2 linked regions of the Homo sapiens genome follow. The protein of the gene in region 1 interacts with the protein of each later gene in a pairwise test. Each region holds a gene or a part of one and is shown on either strand. Other genes may lie near its edges.

Region 1 (8,477 bases):
GTTTATTATAGCATTGTTTGTTATAATACTAAAATAACTAAAAGCAGCTTTAATGTCCAACAATAGAGAAACGGTTTAATATATTTTAAATGTCATCTAAAAGCACAGGTTAATAGGTATAGAGTTTCAGTTTAACAAGATAAAAAGAGTTCTGGAGATAGATAATGGTGATGGTTACACAACAATATGAATGTTCCTAATACCGCTTAAACACTTAAAAATCATCAAGATGGTAAATTTTGTTACATGTATTTTACAACAATTTTAAAATTTAAAATAAAGCATAATGTTCACATCTTTTAAAATTATTATTCTTTTATTTATTCTTCTAGGTCAAGTGAAAGGACTACAAATCAAGATTTCTAATCAGAGAATGTGCTAAATATATATTTTCCCTATATGAGACGTGTTCAGTTAACAAGCACTAGCAAAGAAACAGAAATTTGTCTGAGACTATCTGCTAAGCAGGCAACGATCGCCTACCTTGTTTCAATGTATCATAACAGAAAATAGCTTAATTATATATAAATCTCTAAATACACTGGATTCTGAATACATAGTAACTGCTTAAATTCACATGTACTATTCTAAGTATTTATTTTAAACTAATAATATCTAATTAAAAGGGCACTCTAAGATGTGTTAATCAATCTGATTTTAGTCATCATTATACAATGCATACATATAGCAAATCATCACATTGTACATCTTGAATATATACGATCTTTGTCCATTAAATATTTTAAAATAAAAAATCACCCTGAGGAGATGCCAAACTAACTCAAAATATATTTAAAGTTGTTATATTATTTTTATTATATGTTTTTTAATACTCATATTTCTTCACAGTTGAATGATTTTTTTAAAAAATTGTACTAAGAACACTTAACATGCGATCAACCCTTCTAACAAACTTTTTAAGAGCACAATACAGTATTTTTAAATATAGGCACAATGTTGTACAGCAGCTCTCTAGAACTTGTTCATCTTGTGTAACCAAAACTTTATGTCCACTGAATTCCCCAGTTCCCCTCCAGCAGTCGCTCCCAACCACCACTCTACTCTCTGTTTCCATGAGTCTAACTATTCTAAATATGTCATTGACATGGAATCATGCACTATTTGCCCTTCCGTGATTGGCTTATTTCACTTCACATAATGTTCTTGAGCTCCATCCCATCCCTGTTGCCACATGCTGCAGGATTTCTTTTTTTTTAGGCTGAATAATATTCCATTGTATGTTTATACCACATTTTCTTTATGCATTCAACCATCAATGGACATTTATGTCATTTCCAAGACTTAGCTATGGTAAATAATGCTGTAATTAACACGGGAGTGCAAATATCTCTGAGATTCTGATTTCAATTACTTTGGATATATACCTAAATATATGTGACTACTATCCAGTAGAACTTGGATACATATTAACTCAATTAGTTGTGTGTGGGGAGGGGTAGAGAGCATGAATGTTGGCAGATTGCAGGAGTAAGGTTACATGTTACCTTGTAAGGATTTAGCAATCCTAGTAGGATTGCTGCTTCATATGGAATTTCTACTTTTAAGTTTTTGAAGAACCTCCATACTGTTTACCATAGCAGTTGTACCACTTTACATTCCCACCAAAGGTAATGGATTCCAATTCTTCCACATACTGGCCAACATTTGTTATGTTTTGATTTTTTATAATAGCCATCTCTACAGATGTGAGACGACATCTCATTAAGGGTTTGATTTGCATTCCAATGATGATTATGATGTTGAGCATCTTTTCATTTACCCATTAGCCATTTATATTCCTTCTTTTGAGAGATGACTATTCAAGTTGTTTCTTTGTTTGTTTTTGCCATTAAGTTGTAAAAGTTCCTTTTATTTGGGGACGATAGCCCCTTATCAAATACTTGTTTTACAAAAATTTTCTCCCATTCTGTAAGCTACCTTTACACTGTTGATTGTTTATTTTGCTGTGCAGAAGCCTTTTAATTTGATGTACTCTTTTTCTATATTCTTTTTTTTTTTTTTTTGCTTGTGTTTTGGTGTCATATACAAGAAGTCATTGGTAAGACTAATGTCAAGAAGCTCTTACCCTGTTTTCTTCTAAAATTTTATAGTTTCGGATCAGGTTGAAAGTCTGTATTTTGAGTTGATTTTTGTGTACAGTGTAAGATAAGGATCCAATTTTACGTATATCCAAGTTTTTAACACTATTTGTGAAAGAGACAATCCTTTCTTTATTGTGTTTTCTTGGCACCTTTGTCAAAGACCACTTAACTGTACATGTGTGGGTTTATTTCTGGGCTCTTTATTCTGCCTCATTGGCCTATATGTCTGTTTTTTATGACAGTGCTACAGTGTTGTAATTACTGTAGCTTTGTAACATGTTTTGAAATCAGGAAGAATGGTGTCTCCAGCTTTTTTCTTCGTTCTCAGATTGCTTTGGTTATTCAGGGTTTTTTTGTGACTACAAATGAATTTTAGGTTGTTTTTTCTATTTCTGTAAAAAAAAAATGCCATTGGGCTTTTGATAGGGATTATATTGATCAGTTTGGATAGTATGGAGATTTAAAAAATATTAGACTTTAGGGTTTTCTACAGATAAGATTATGCCATCTGCAAACAAAGATTAATTTACTTTTTTCTTTCTGATTTTGATGCTTTTATTTCCTTCTCTGGCCTAATTGCTCTGCCTAAGGTTTCCAGTACTATGTTGAATGGAAGTGGTAAGTGTAGAGAAGTGATTATTTTGAAAACGTGTATTATAACAAATCAATTCTAACTATAATCTTAGAGAAAATATGTACAAATAAATTTGAATATGGACAACATTTAGTTGGTTACAGGAACAGATGAAAATATTGATTTGAATCAATGATGAGATTGTGGAAATTGGATTTATGTTGTTATTTTACTATTTTCAATAAGGCAGTTTTAAAAATGAGAAAAGTCCAAAACAGACTAGAATTCTAACCCATTGTTAATTACGCATAAAAGAAAATATGTTTATAAAAATATATTCAAAATGCAATAAACTAGGCAGATGTTCACAAGTGTTTCCACATGTTGGTCACTCTGGTCACACTGTAAAACCCATTTATTAGTCTATAATATCATTGTTCATATTTGCCTTTTCTCAAAATCTCCATGTCTTAGTTAACCAAGAACACTAGAAAGCAAGCAAAAAAAAAAAATAGTAAAGAAAATTACTAAGTTTTTGAGTAAATAATGAGGTTTAATGTCAACTCTACAGTCTAATAGACACTATAAAATGTATAAAGTGAATGAATACGTTAATTTAGCCTCTTATTCTGAGGACTTATTAGGAAAACACCCACTAAGGTAATGTCCTTCTCTTGCAATCTTTTTTTCCCAGGATCTTTTCCAGCCTAAGAGTAGTGATAGATGTTTTGTTTGGATTTTTCTGGAGGGGTAGGAATTGTGGAAGGAGCCTCTTGAAGTGTTGTTTGCGCATGCTAGATATCAGTGAATTTCTGAAAACACGGTCAAAATTTCTCTCCAAAAGGGTTTCTCAAATACTCTGAAGAGAGATATTGTTGAGAAACTGCTGAGTTGAGTCCAGTCTGATGGCACTGTTTCCTTCAAGGGTTTCAAGTTGACAACTCATGATGAAATTCATAATTGTGTAAAGTGCATATATCTTAACATGTTTATTTCATCTGTAAATATTAATTACATATTTTGTATTGATTCTGTGGCTTTTATCTCTTTAACTGAGATTTTGTAACTGTAATTCTCGCGGCAGCTCAACAGTTTCAACGTTTTGTGGCACTAAACACCATCAAAAGCCATTATATGGCTCTCCAATCATTAAAACCTTAGTATTATGGGATCAGAGAAAAGATCTCTTTGCCTACCACCTGAGGAAAATATTACCATTATGTTGGAGATTAATGAAGTAAGGCTAAAGGCCAAAGGCAACATGGTCCTGTGTTCTACTTGACCCTGTGATCCTTTAGCACTGGATTGGGAGGCCAGGACATTTGTAAACTTTGACTTTCCAATGCACTCAGGAAAGTATGCAACCTATCCTTTTCCCTAAGCTTAAATGATTTTGATAATTAGTTTTTTAAAACTTATTATTTTTGCCCAGGTCGTCATCTTCTTATGTGATTTTTAGATGTTCGGCTTAAATATAGTGTTTTAAATAATAAATAACATTTAAAATATAAGAAACATCTAAAAGCCATCTTAGATTTTTCTTTCTCTCCTTCTCTCTCTCTCTCTCATTCTCTCCCCTTCTCTCTCTCTCTCTCTCTCTCTCTCTCTCTCCCCCCTTCTCTCTCTCTCTTTTTTTTTAAATCTTGGTACAGAGGAAGCGGGAAGTTACTTAGCACGGTTCCGGGTTTCTCGCGCCCCGCCTGTCCCCCCTCCCTATCACTGCTACTGGCTCTTGGTCCCTCCGTTGGACTGTCCTGCGGAGAGAAACCCCAGCCCATCGGTCTGCGCTGGGACCGCCCGCCGCGCATCTGCCCTTCTTCGCTGACTCCGCCCCGCATCTGGCCAGACCCGCCTCGCGTCAGAGCTGACCCACTCACTGCGCGTTTGCCAGTCAGTCTCTCCGGACCTGCCTCGAGCCTCAGGCTGCTGAAATCACCGCGCCTCACTCGGTCCGTACCCAGTGGGCATCTTGGGTATCTGGGCGGTCTTCGATCCCCCGCGCGTGTGTCTGTCTGTCTGTCTCTGTGTCCTATCCGCTGCCTGCAGCCTGCCTGCCGGTCTTATCGCACCAAGTGTCTGGTGTACCCTTTCGCAGACGCTGAGTGCGGAGAGGCCTTAGCGAAAGGCTAGCCAGCCCGAGACTGGCCAGGCAGCCGGCGGAGGAATACGCGCTCGGTCCCTGCCCTTGTTGATATCATTTTAAACCAACAGGAGCTCTAGGCCTATATTTATGCAGAAAGCGGGTCGGGAGGCCTCTGTCTGCAATGCTAGTTGTGGGGAACCAGCCAGCTGCTTGGTGGCTTCTCACAATTTCACGGGGACAGGAAAATTACGTTTCTGGTACTGGCTTTTGAAACTGATTTTAAATCTGAACGGGTGACAATTTTAAGTCCCCGCAGGGAGAATAGATTCGTATTTGGGGCGCCTTTTTGTCTGATGTGTTTGTTCTGAGCCTGCTGACCAGCTGTTTCTGAACTTCATTTTCTCAGCCTCGACAGTGATTCTGAGTCTGCTTTTAGCTTCCTTTTGCCTGCCTTGGCTTTTTCTGTTCGTGAACAGCTGTTTGGCCCATAGCTTAGAGAAAGCAGCCTTTTTTCTCTTCAAAGAGAACCTCCTCCCAGTGCTCAGAGAGATGGGGAGCGGGGAGCCTAATCCTGCTGGCAAGAAAAAGAAGTATCTCAAGGCCGCTCTGTACGTGGGTGACTTGGACCCAGATGTCACCGAGGACATGCTCTATAAGAAGTTCAGGCCTGCTGGCCCTCTGCGATTCACCCGAATCTGCCGTGATCCGGTGACCCGCAGCCCCCTGGGCTATGGGTATGTTAACTTCCGCTTTCCCGCGGATGCAGAGTGGGCCTTGAACACCATGAATTTTGATTTGATTAATGGAAAACCATTCCGCCTTATGTGGTCTCAGCCAGATGACCGCTTAAGAAAGTCTGGAGTGGGAAATATATTCATCAAAAACCTGGACAAATCCATAGACAATAGGGCCCTGTTTTACTTATTTTCTGCTTTTGGGAACATTCTGTCCTGCAAAGTCGTATGCGATGACAACGGCTCTAAGGGTTATGCCTATGTTCACTTTGACAGCCTGGCCGCTGCCAATAGAGCCATCTGGCACATGAATGGAGTGCGGCTCAACAACCGCCAGGTGTATGTTGGCAGATTCAAATTCCCAGAAGAGCGGGCGGCTGAGGTCAGAACCAGGGATAGAGCAACTTTCACCAATGTTTTCGTTAAAAACATTGGAGACGACATAGATGACGAAAAACTGAAGGAACTTTTCTGTGAATATGGGCCAACTGAGAGTGTTAAAGTAATAAGAGATGCCAGTGGGAAATCTAAAGGCTTTGGATTTGTGAGATATGAGACACACGAGGCTGCCCAAAAGGCTGTGCTAGACTTGCATGGAAAGTCCATCGATGGAAAAGTCCTCTATGTAGGGCGAGCACAGAAGAAAATTGAACGCCTGGCTGAGTTGAGGCGGAGATTTGAACGGCTGAGGTTAAAAGAAAAAAGTCGGCCCCCAGGGGTGCCTATCTATATTAAGAACTTGGATGAGACAATCAATGATGAAAAACTGAAGGAGGAATTTTCTTCCTTTGGGTCAATTAGTCGGGCCAAAGTGATGATGGAAGTGGGGCAAGGCAAAGGATTTGGTGTGGTCTGCTTTTCCTCTTTTGAAGAGGCTACCAAAGCAGTGGATGAGATGAATGGCCGCATAGTGGGCTCCAAGCCCCTGCATGTCACCCTGGGCCAGGCCAGGCGCAGGTGCTGAGAATAAGAATGCTCAGTTTGTTTCAGCCTTAGTTGGTGCCTCCTTAGTTTGGGCTCCTTTGTGATAAGGGGTTATTTTATGCTAATTCACAAGTTTTTTTTTGAAGTGAATTCTTTTGAAAAAAAAATGCAAAACTAGAAAACTTTATTCATTTTAGAATAGAACATAATTTCTAACTGTAAAATTGTCATTTTGTACTTTTTTTGATGTAATATCCTTAGAAATCTGTAGAATAAAGTGTATTCCTCCACTTTTTTTTCCTGAACAGTCAAGGTGAGGCAATTGATTGAGTATATTTCCCTTCTTATTTCAGTAATACTCTATTTTTTTTCATGAAAATGTCAACATGGTTCTTCTGAATCTATCACAGTGAAAAGTTCTAACTTGTTTTTGAGAAGTCAGTACAGCAGGGGAAAACATATGTGATGCAATTAACATCTGCATAATTTCACTTAAAATTATTATGCAAAAATGAATGTTTTTTCAAAAAATGTGAAATGTATTTTATTTTCTTTATTTGTATTCTTGTTTCATTTTTTAATATGTTGTGAACATGCTACAGATTTGATAGTACTTTTGACTAAATGTTGGGAGTGGTCGTATTAACTTCTTGCCCAAAGAAGTAAGCATATTGGTGTTTTCTCAATTAGTCACTGAGAAAATTAACACTTTAGGCAGTGGCTATTTAAAGTAGGAATTGCATCTTAAAAACCTTTCCTAAGAGATTTGGTATGTGAGGATACTTTCAGTACCACTCCTACCATTCATTTTTCTAAATTCCTTAGTACATATACTTGGATCATGTTAAATTAACAAGAAAGATGAATAACTGCGCTGAATTGCCTTTACCTATAAATAATTTAATATTTTACCTTCGGGTTTTATCAACTGTCAATATAAAAGGCAGTACTCCACAGAATGATGTTGAAAAACTTCTTCGAAGAACACCTTCTATTAAACTTGTTATCTCTTGTAAATTATTGTGTGTGTCCTTTTGATAATATTCACAGGTGTTTCAAAGGTAAGGAATAGGTTGTCTCTTGGATTAAGTCATATGCCTCCAGCCATTATATGAGAACTGTGAAACCAATATGGTTTTCTTTATGTCTTGGCTGCTTGAAAATTAAAAAAAAAAAAGGTTTGTTCAATATTGCCGTTACATTTATTAGCCTGTAATTTCTAAATTGGAGATTCTCTACATTTCACTTGCAGTTTCCTGTTCTCCTCATTGCCTGCCTTCCATTCATATTACACTTATTTTTCTATTTTTTGTATTACCTTTTTAAAAATATATACCAGTTCAAGTCCTTTTAGGAAGAAGAAAATACCTAATTTATGTAAAATTTAAATAATTACTTTTTTATAATATGATTCACTTATGCCACAGATTCAACATTAGAATATGTTTTATCTCTACTGTCAGTTTTATTACCTTATATACAAATCTTCATTTTCATACATAGTACAATGTAAATATATAACTTTGTTAACACTTTTGTTAGCTCTTTGACCATAAAATAATGACAATAAGCTGTTTCTATGTATTTGTTTATCTACAAATTACAGGTTTATCCATTTGCAAATATTTTCAAAATGGAAATCACTGTTTATATTGATTATAAACATAAGACATGCTCATTGTAAAAAATGTACACAAGGCAGAAGGAAGTAAAATTTCCACAGTTCAGAAATACCACAATTAATATTTTCAATGTGTAAATATCTTTTCATAATTTTTCCTACGTATACACAAACATTTTGACCAAAAATCCACACTATATGTACTGTTCTGTATTTTTAATTTTAAACTGAACAATAATCATCTTTTCCTGACAATAAATATCAATCTCTATCATCATCTTAGTGACTGCATAGTATTCTATTCCCGTGTTGACATATTATAATTTATCTAAACAGTTTGCTATTGAATCTAATTTATATGATTTTTAACATTTTTACATGCGTAAACAATGCCGTGATGAACATCACTTGCTTAAAACCGTTATTAATTACTGACTGC
Region 2 (8,596 bases), on another chromosome or scaffold:
TAAACTTCAGTGCTCTCTACACCATCCTTTAGAAGAATGGTTTCCAAATGACCGACTCAGGCAAGTTGGCTGTATAATAAATCCTCTGTAGTACTTTTAAAAAATTAACATGCCCAGACAACTGAGCATGTTGGGATGTAACTAAAGAACTGATTTTTGTATTTAATGCTTCATAGGTAATCATGGTGTACAGATTAGTTCAGTGGACCCAGCCAGTTCTCACTCTAGTGCTGATGTTTAGTTATCACAATTCCCCCCACCCCGCTTTTTTTTTTTTTTTTTTTTTTGAGGTGGAGTCTCACTCTGTCGCCCAGGCTAGAGTGCAACGACACCATCTTGGTTCACCACAACCTCCACCTCCCAGATTCATGCGATTCTCCTGCCTTAGCCTCCCAGGTAGCTGGGATTACAGGCACGCACCACCACAACCAGCTAATTTTCTGTATACTTTTAGTAGAGACGGGGTTTCACCATGTTGGTCAGGCTGGTCTCGAACTCTTGACCTCGTGATCCGCGTGCCTCGGCGTCCCAAAGTGTTGGGATTACAGGCATGAGCCACTGCACCCAGCCAAGACAAGATTAAAGAGCAAAACTTCTCCATCAAGCTACTTCTGTATAGGCAAGTAACATGATAATATTGTGTGTGTTTTTAAATTATTAATTCTTTAGGACATTTAAGTACCCTAGGGCAACATCAGGACTAAAAGCAGGGGCTAGAAGTCCGTCTAAGACTAGCTCTACAGTGTTGCCGGAAGTGATTCCATGTCGTGAGACTCTGCTTCCATTGTAAAAAGCAGCACAATTCCTTTTTCCTTTTTTTTTTTTTGAGACAGTCTTGCTGTGTCACCCACGCTGGAGTGCAGTGGCGTAATCTCGGATCACTGCAACCTCTGCCTTCCAGGTTGAAGCGATTCTCCTGCCTCAGCCTCCCAAGTAGCTGGAACTACAGGCGCCCGCCACCATGTCCAGCTAATTTTTGTATTTTTTTTTTCTTTTTTTTGAGTCAGAGTCTCACTCTGTTGCCCAGGCTGGAGTGCAATGGTGCGATCTCCACTCACTGCAACCTCCGCCTCCCAGATTCAAGCAATTCTCCTGCCTCAGCCTTTTGAGTAGCTGGGATTACTTACAGGCATGCACCACCACACCCAGCTAATTTTTGTAATTTTAGTACAGATGGGGTTTCACCACGTTGGCCAGGCTGGTCTTGAACTCCTGACCTCAGGTGATCCACCCACCTCGGCCTCCCAAAGTGCTGGAATTAAAGGCATGAGCCACCGTGCCTGGCCAAATTTTGTATTTTTTATTCTATTTATTTATTTATTTATTTATTTATTTATTTATTTATTTAATAGAGTTTCACTCTTGTTGCCCAGGCTGGAGTGCAATGGTGCAATCTCAGCTCACCACAACTTCCGTCTCCCGGGTTCAAGCGATTCTCCTGCCTCAGCCTCCCGAGTAGCTGGGATCACAGGCATGTGCTACCATGCCCGGCTAATTTTTTATTTTTAGTAGAGATGGGGTTTCTCCATGTTGGTCAGGCTGGTCTCAAACTCCTGACCTCAAGTCAACTGCCTGCCTCGGCCTCCCAAAGTGCTGGGATTACAGGCGTGAGCCACATGCCCGGCCAGAAGCAGCACAATTTCTGAAGGGGAAAGAGATGTAGAATTCTTAAATAGATGGGAGCTGGCTTTTCCACTTATGCAAAAGATGCACTAGGTTTTAAAAAGATGAAAAATAACTTTTTACCACAAGATCTTCCAGAGAAGAGCCATCACTGATAACAAGGTCATTAAACTGGTCTTGGATTTGGTCCATAGTTTGTGGGAGATCTCGAGCTGGAATAAACCATTCATGCTCTTCTTCCTCTTCCAGCATTTCTTGGAAACAGCGTTCAATAAATTCTTCTTCCCATAACTCCTCTTCTATCTAGATTTATAATAAAGGATAATTTATAGCACACTTGGTAGATATCACTAGGAATGGCTTAAAATATCTTGAACTAAACCATTTAAAGGCACAAAGTCATACTTTCTTTTCTGCTTCCATGCTAAGGAAAAAAAATGCTTACCATAATGACCGGCGAAGATCTATCTGTTTAGGGTTTTTCTATGTTTTTACTTTTATTAGTAGAACATTCTTTTTTCCATTGAGGGTGGCAGGGAAGAAGTAAAAAGAGATGCCTGTCTCTTTTTTCTGTGCCTGTCTGCTCCTGACTCCTGAATTCTCTTGACTTTCACGGTAACCAGCAATCTTACTGGCATAAGGCAGTGGTTTCCACATCTGACTGCTCAATGGAACCATCTGAGAGCTCTGAAAAAGTTTCCCAGGCTCCACCCTCATCCTCCTGATTCAGACATCTCTAGGGTGGGACCCTGAAACAAGCTCCCCAGGTTATTTCCGTAAGCAGTTAAGCCTGGTAGTAATCAGCAGCCAAATAAACAGGAGTGGTGGCACATCAGTCTACATACTTTATACATAAAGGACAAGATAAACACATTTCAGGGACAAGTACAATCATATTGAGGGCCAGAATGGACTATAAAAACATGTTTGTACAAAAAACTAACTTGTCTGTTGAATTCTTCTTCATTTTCCATCCACATGTACTCTGCAAATGGATTGTCATCTTCATGAGAATGACCGTTAATAATCACATCTTCATTGATGATGCTTGGGCTAGTACTGCTGCGACTTGGATCTTTCATGGCTGATGTTGGTTGTCGTTTTTAACCTTAAAAGAACAACAGCACAGTTAATTTACTTACTCATTCAGGGTTTTTTCTTTCTGAGACAAGGTTTCACTCCGTCATCCAGGCTGGAGTGCAATGGTGTGATCATGGCTCACCACAGCCTCGATCTCTTGCCTCAGCCTCCCAAGTAACTGGGACTACAGGTGTGCACCACCACACCACCCGGCTGAATTTTTTTTATTTTTTGTAGAAACAAGGTCTGTGTTACCCAAGCTGGTCTCAAATTTCTGGGCTCAAGTGATCCTCCCACCCAAGCCTCTCAAAGTGCTGGGATTATATGCATGAGCCACCAGGCCCAGCTGATTCTTTCAGTTCTTAGTGAGCATCTGTTTATTATTAGCAGGCATCATGAATAGGTGTTAGAGGCAGATGATACATTAAAAATACACGGTAAGTTGAATAATTGGAAAGCTTCATGTTTGTTTTTTCCAAATGATTTTAATGTTTTAAGAAACAGGAGAGGACAGCCTAAAACATCTAATGTTTTCTTTTTTTTTTTGAGATAGAGTTTCACTCTGTCACCCAGGCTGGAATGCAGTGGCATGATCTTGGTTCACTGCAACCTCAACTGCCCATGTTTAAGCGATTCTCCCGCCTCAGCCTCCCAAGTAGCTGGGATTACAGGCACGTGCTACCATGCCCAGCTAATTTTTGTATTTTTAGTAGAGATGGAGTTTCGCCACGTTGGCCAGGCTGGTCTTGAACTCCTGACCTCAGATGATCTGCCTGCCTTGGCCTCCCAAAGTGCTGAGATTATAGGTGTGCGCCACCACGCCCGGCCACATCTAATGTTTTCCGATAACAGTAAATGAAGTCCATCAGTTGCTTACATGGACTCTCCAAACCATCCAATTTATATTTTATATTACATATCACTTGCTTTGTAAAGCAAGCATGGTCGGCTGGGTGCAGTGGCTCATGCCTATAATCCCGGCACTTTGGGAGGCGGGGGCAGGTGGATCATTTAAGGTCAGGAGTTTGAGACCAGCCTAACATGGTGAAACCCTGTCTCTACTAAAAATACAAAAAAGGCCAGGCGCGGTGGCTCATGCCTGTAATCCCAGCACTTTGGGAGGCCGAGGCAGGTGGATCACCTGAGGTCGAGAGTTCAAGACCAGCCTGATCAACATGGTGAAACCCCGTCTCTACTAAAAATACAAAATTAGCCGGGCGTGGTGGCACATGCCTGTAATCCCAGCTACTCCGGAGGCTGAGGCAGGAGAATTGCTTGAACCCGGGAGGCGGAGGCTGTGGTGAGCCAAGATTGCGCCGTTGCACTCCAGCCTGGGCAAAAAGAGTGAAACTCCATCTCAAAAAAAAAAAAAAAAAAAAAACACCCAAAAACAAAAAATTTAGCTGGGCATGGTGGTACATGCCTGTAATCCCAGCTACTCAGGAGGCTGAGGTGGGAGAATCACTTGAAACCAGGAGGCAGAGGGTACAGTGAGCCGAGACTGCACCACTGCACTCCAGCCTAGGCAACAGAGGGAAACTCCACCTCAAACAACAACAACAACAACAACAAAAACCAAACACGGTCTGAAAGACTGAGTCATCAAGTGATGAAATGATGAAAAGCAAATTCAATTTTTAAAAACTGACTTCAAAAAGTCCAGGGATTGAAAGTGAAAACTAACAGATTTTTAATAACTTCTTAGGTTCTTCATGTATATAGCTCTGGATCTCTCCTTGATAGCCCATATTCTGTGTCTGCTTTTTCTCTAGGTCCATGTCAAGTTCTTCCATGTCTGGAGTTCCTCACTGTACAGTGAGTTTCAGGCATCTTTTTTTTTTTTTTTTTTTTGAGACAGGGTCTCACCCAGACGAGTGCAGTGGCGTGATCTCAGCTCACCGCAACCTCCGCCTCCCAGGCTCAAGCAATTCTCCTGCCTCAGCCTCCAGAGTAGCTGGGATTACAGGCGTATGCCATTATCACCTGGCTAACTTTTGTATTTTTAGTAGAGACTGGGTTTCACCATGTTGGCCAGGCTAGCCTTGAACTCAAGACCTCAAATGATCCACCTGTCTCAGCCTCCCAAAGTGCTGGGATTACATGCATGAGCCATCGCGCCCAGCCCAGTATCTTTTCACCTGAGTAAAAGTAGTATCAAATACAAGCCTGATGTCTTATACTACTCAATAGCTGATAACATGATCTAACCTAATTGATACATTGCAGGCTAAATATCTGAAGCACAAGGTTTCACATTCTAAAATATTCCAATTCATTAAGTTTGAAATCACTAAAAATAGATTTACATAAAACAATTCACCTGTACGTAAACTCAAGCAGTATAGTGACTTGTGCCAAAGAAAGGCTTATTGAGGTCTGCTTACCTCACATTTGTCATAATCAAGTAAAACACTAAATCTAAAATCTCCTACTGGAAATATATGTATTTTTTTCCCTTTGGGATAAGTTTCAGGGAAAAGATGAACCCTATGTGTGTTGCCTGGCCCTTTAAATTTTATGGACTTATCCTTAAGAGGACATAAGTGTAATAAAAATCCATAGCTGTTCATGTAATATGACAAATACTAGATACTAATGACAACAGGATCATAGTGGTGAAAATTTTAATTGTTGAGAGGTCCTCAACTAAAAATTTCTGGGAACTTCTGTCCTAGTTATAGTATGTATATCTATAAAAGAAAGGCAGGCCGGGCACTGTGGCTCACTCCAGTAATTCCAGCATTTTGGGAGGACAAAGCAGGCGGACTGCTTGAGCCCAGGAGTTCGAGACCAGCCTGGGCAACATAGAGAACCCCATCTCTACTACAAATACAAAAAATTAGCTGGATGTGGTGGTGCATGCCTATAATCCCAGCTATCTGGGAGGCTGAGGCAAGAGAATCACTGGAACCTGGGAGGCAGAGGTTGCAGAGAGGCAAGATCACATCACTGCACTTCAGCCTGGGCAAGAAAGCAAGACCCTGTCTCCAAAAAAGAAAAAAAAAAAAAGAAAGGCAGGAAGAAACAAACTGGGTGCGGCTCATGCCTGTAATCCCAACACTTTGGGAGGTCAACAGGGGTGGATCGCTTGAGCCCAGGAGTTTGATACTAGCCTGGGCAATATGGCAAAGCTGGGTACAGTGGTGCACGCCTGCAGTCCCAGCTACTTGGGAGGCCAAGGTAGGAGGATCTCCTGACCCTGGGAGGTGGAGGTTGCAGTGAGCTGAGATAGTGCCACTGCACTCCAGCCTGGGCGGCAGAGCAAGACCCTATCTTGAAAAACAATAATACAATCAAACAAAAGAAGAAAGGCAGAAACAGACTCAGAGTTATGTGCTATGGTGTTAGTAGAAAGAAAATATGATAATATGATTTGTTAGGAAATTGAGGCACTGTAAAAGCAGACAAGACAGAAAACAGACAATGGATATCTGTTATTTTTATCATTAAACTTGGATGAAAAACTATTTTGATAGCAAGTTTTGACTAAATAATAACCAGTTCCTCTAAAGAAAATAATTAGACTGGGTGCGGTGGCTCCCGCCTATAATCCCAACACTTTGGGAGGCCAAGGCGGGCAGATCACGAGATCGGGAGTTCGAGACCAGCCTGGCCAATATGGTGAAATCCCGTCTCTACTAAAAATACAAAAACTAGCCAGGTATGGTGGCACGCACCTGTAGTCCCAGCTACTTGGGAGGCCAAGGCAGAAGAATCGCTTGAACCTGAGAGGTGGAGGTTGCAGTGAGCCGAGACTGCGCCACTGCACTCTGGCCTGGGCAACAGAGCGCGACTACATCTCAAAAAAAAGAAAAGAAGAAAATTACCCATTTTTTTTTGAGACGGAGAGTACAGTGGTGCAATCTCAGCTCACTGCAACCTCTGCCTCCTGGTTCAAGAGATTCTCCTGCCTCCGCCTCCTGTGTAGCTGGGATTACAGGAGCGTGCCACCATGGCCGGCTAATTTTTTTGTATTTTTAGTAGAGACAGGGTTTCACCACGTTGGCCCGGCTGGCCTCAAACGCCTGACCTCAAGTGATCCGCCCACCTCAGCCTCCCAAAGTGCTGGGATTACAGGCATGAGCCACCGTGTCCGGCCGAAAATTACTCATTCTTATATGGCAGGCTACCAAACTGCTTACTGTTAAATAATTACATTTTAGATATTCCTCTAACACTGTGAATGGCTGGGATTGATCCTGCCTCACAACTGGATGGAACTTTGGTTAATCTGCATCTGAACCTTATCATTAAGTTAGGTACAAAGACACCCCAATATAAACAGGTTTTCATTATTTTCCCAATTTGTATCCTGTCCCAACTTATGCCCATAAAATCCTACTTTTCACACCGGGCACTGTGGCTCATGCCTGTAATCCGAGCACTTTGGGAGGCTGAGGCGGGCAGATCACTTGAGGTCAGGAGTTTGAGACCAGCCTGGCCAACATGGCGAAACCCTGTCTCTACTGAAAATGAAAAAAAATTAGCCGGGTGTGATGGCGCACACCTGTAATGCCAGCTACACAGGAGGCTGAGGCAGGAGAATCACTTGAACCCAGGAGGTAGAGGTTCCAGTGTGCCAAGATCGCGCCACTGCACTCTCCAGCCTGGGAGACAGAGTAAGACTCTGTCTCAAACAAATAACTTAGCTGGGTGTGGTGGTGCACGCCTGTGGTCCCAGATACTCAGGAGAGTGAGGTGGGAAGATCATATTAGCCCGAGGTCAAGGCTGCAGAGAGCCATGATCGCACGCCACTGCATTCCAGCCTGGGCAACAGAGCAAGACCTCGTCTCAAAAAAAGAATTTACTGTTTTAAAGTGTTTGATTCAGTGGTTTTAACACACCACCATTACCTAATTCCAGAACATTTTCACCACCCCAAAAGGAAACTCCATACCCATCTGTAGTCACTCTCCATTTCCCAAGCCCCCCAACTTGGACAACCACTAGTCTACTTTCTGTCTCTATAGATTTGCCTATTCTGAACATTGCATATAAATGGAATCATAAAATATGTGTCCTCTTCTCATGTCTGGCTTCTTTCACTTATTACAATGTTTTCAAGGTTCACCTATGTTGTAGCATGTATCAGCATTTCATTCCTTTTTATTGCCAAACAATATTCCATTGTATAGAGATACACATTTTATCTACTCTGATTAATGAGCATCTGCAGTCGTTTCCACTTTTTGGCTATTAATAATGCTGTTATCGGTATTTGTGTACAAGTTTTTATATGAGCACGTTTTCAGTTCTCTTGAATATATACCCAATGTGTTCAATGCTAGTCAGTCTTTTAGCTATACATTTTCAACTGTGATAGAAAAAATGAGTAAAAAAGGTAGCTGACTCCCTCCCCACCACCAGACACAATCCTCACTCCCAATCCTTTTCCCAAAAGTAAGCACTGCTAATGTGGTATATATTTTTCTTAAAAAGTAAACACATATGCAACAATAGTATTGCATTTAAGGGCCTTACAGTCATCATCTATTTAATACTCACAAGTCCTGTGGATGTAGGGATTATGGTCAAATTCATTTCCATGACAAAGAACTAAGTCTTAAGTAACTTGTTCCAGGTTACACAACTAGTGAACAGTGGAGCTGAAATTCAAGTCAAGGTAGCCTGACTCTAAAACATGCACCAGGGCCCAGCACTTTGGGAGTCTGAGGTGGGCCTCCAGACCCAGCTGTTGAAAACCAGCATGGGCAACATAGTGAGACCCCTATCTCTACAGAACTACTAAAAAGAACTGCCAATGCAATGATAAACTTCCAGAGGAATGCTTAAGAAAAAAAAAACCAACAGTTCAATTCTGGTAAAACACCTCTGTGGTATTTTAAACTACCCTAGTGCCATCTCCCATTTGCAGCTTGGTAAGCCTTGAAG

The links.
Region 2: the proteins of PABPC5 (region 1) and PAIP2 interact in binary tests that used the Homo sapiens proteins (3 or more experiments, as listed by UniProt).

The regions. Positions count from the first base shown.
Region 1 is NC_000023.11:91,430,270-91,438,746, forward strand, and holds PABPC5 (polyadenylate-binding protein 5), read left to right. Parts: upstream 1-4,569; 5' UTR 4,570-4,625; intron 4,626-4,633; exon of another isoform or gene 4,634-4,730; intron 4,731-5,165; 5' UTR 5,166-5,308; coding exon 5,309-6,457; 3' UTR 6,458-8,315; downstream 8,316-8,477. UniProt on the Homo sapiens protein: Binds the poly(A) tail of mRNA. May be involved in cytoplasmic regulatory processes of mRNA metabolism. Can probably bind to cytoplasmic RNA sequences other than poly(A) in vivo.
Region 2 is NC_000005.10:139,357,894-139,366,489, reverse strand, and holds part of PAIP2 (polyadenylate-binding protein-interacting protein 2), read right to left. Parts: intron 2,732-8,596; 5' UTR 2,706-2,731; coding exon 2,568-2,705; intron 1,927-2,567; coding exon 1,747-1,926; intron 1-1,746. UniProt on the Homo sapiens protein: Acts as a repressor in the regulation of translation initiation of poly(A)-containing mRNAs. Its inhibitory activity on translation is mediated via its action on PABPC1.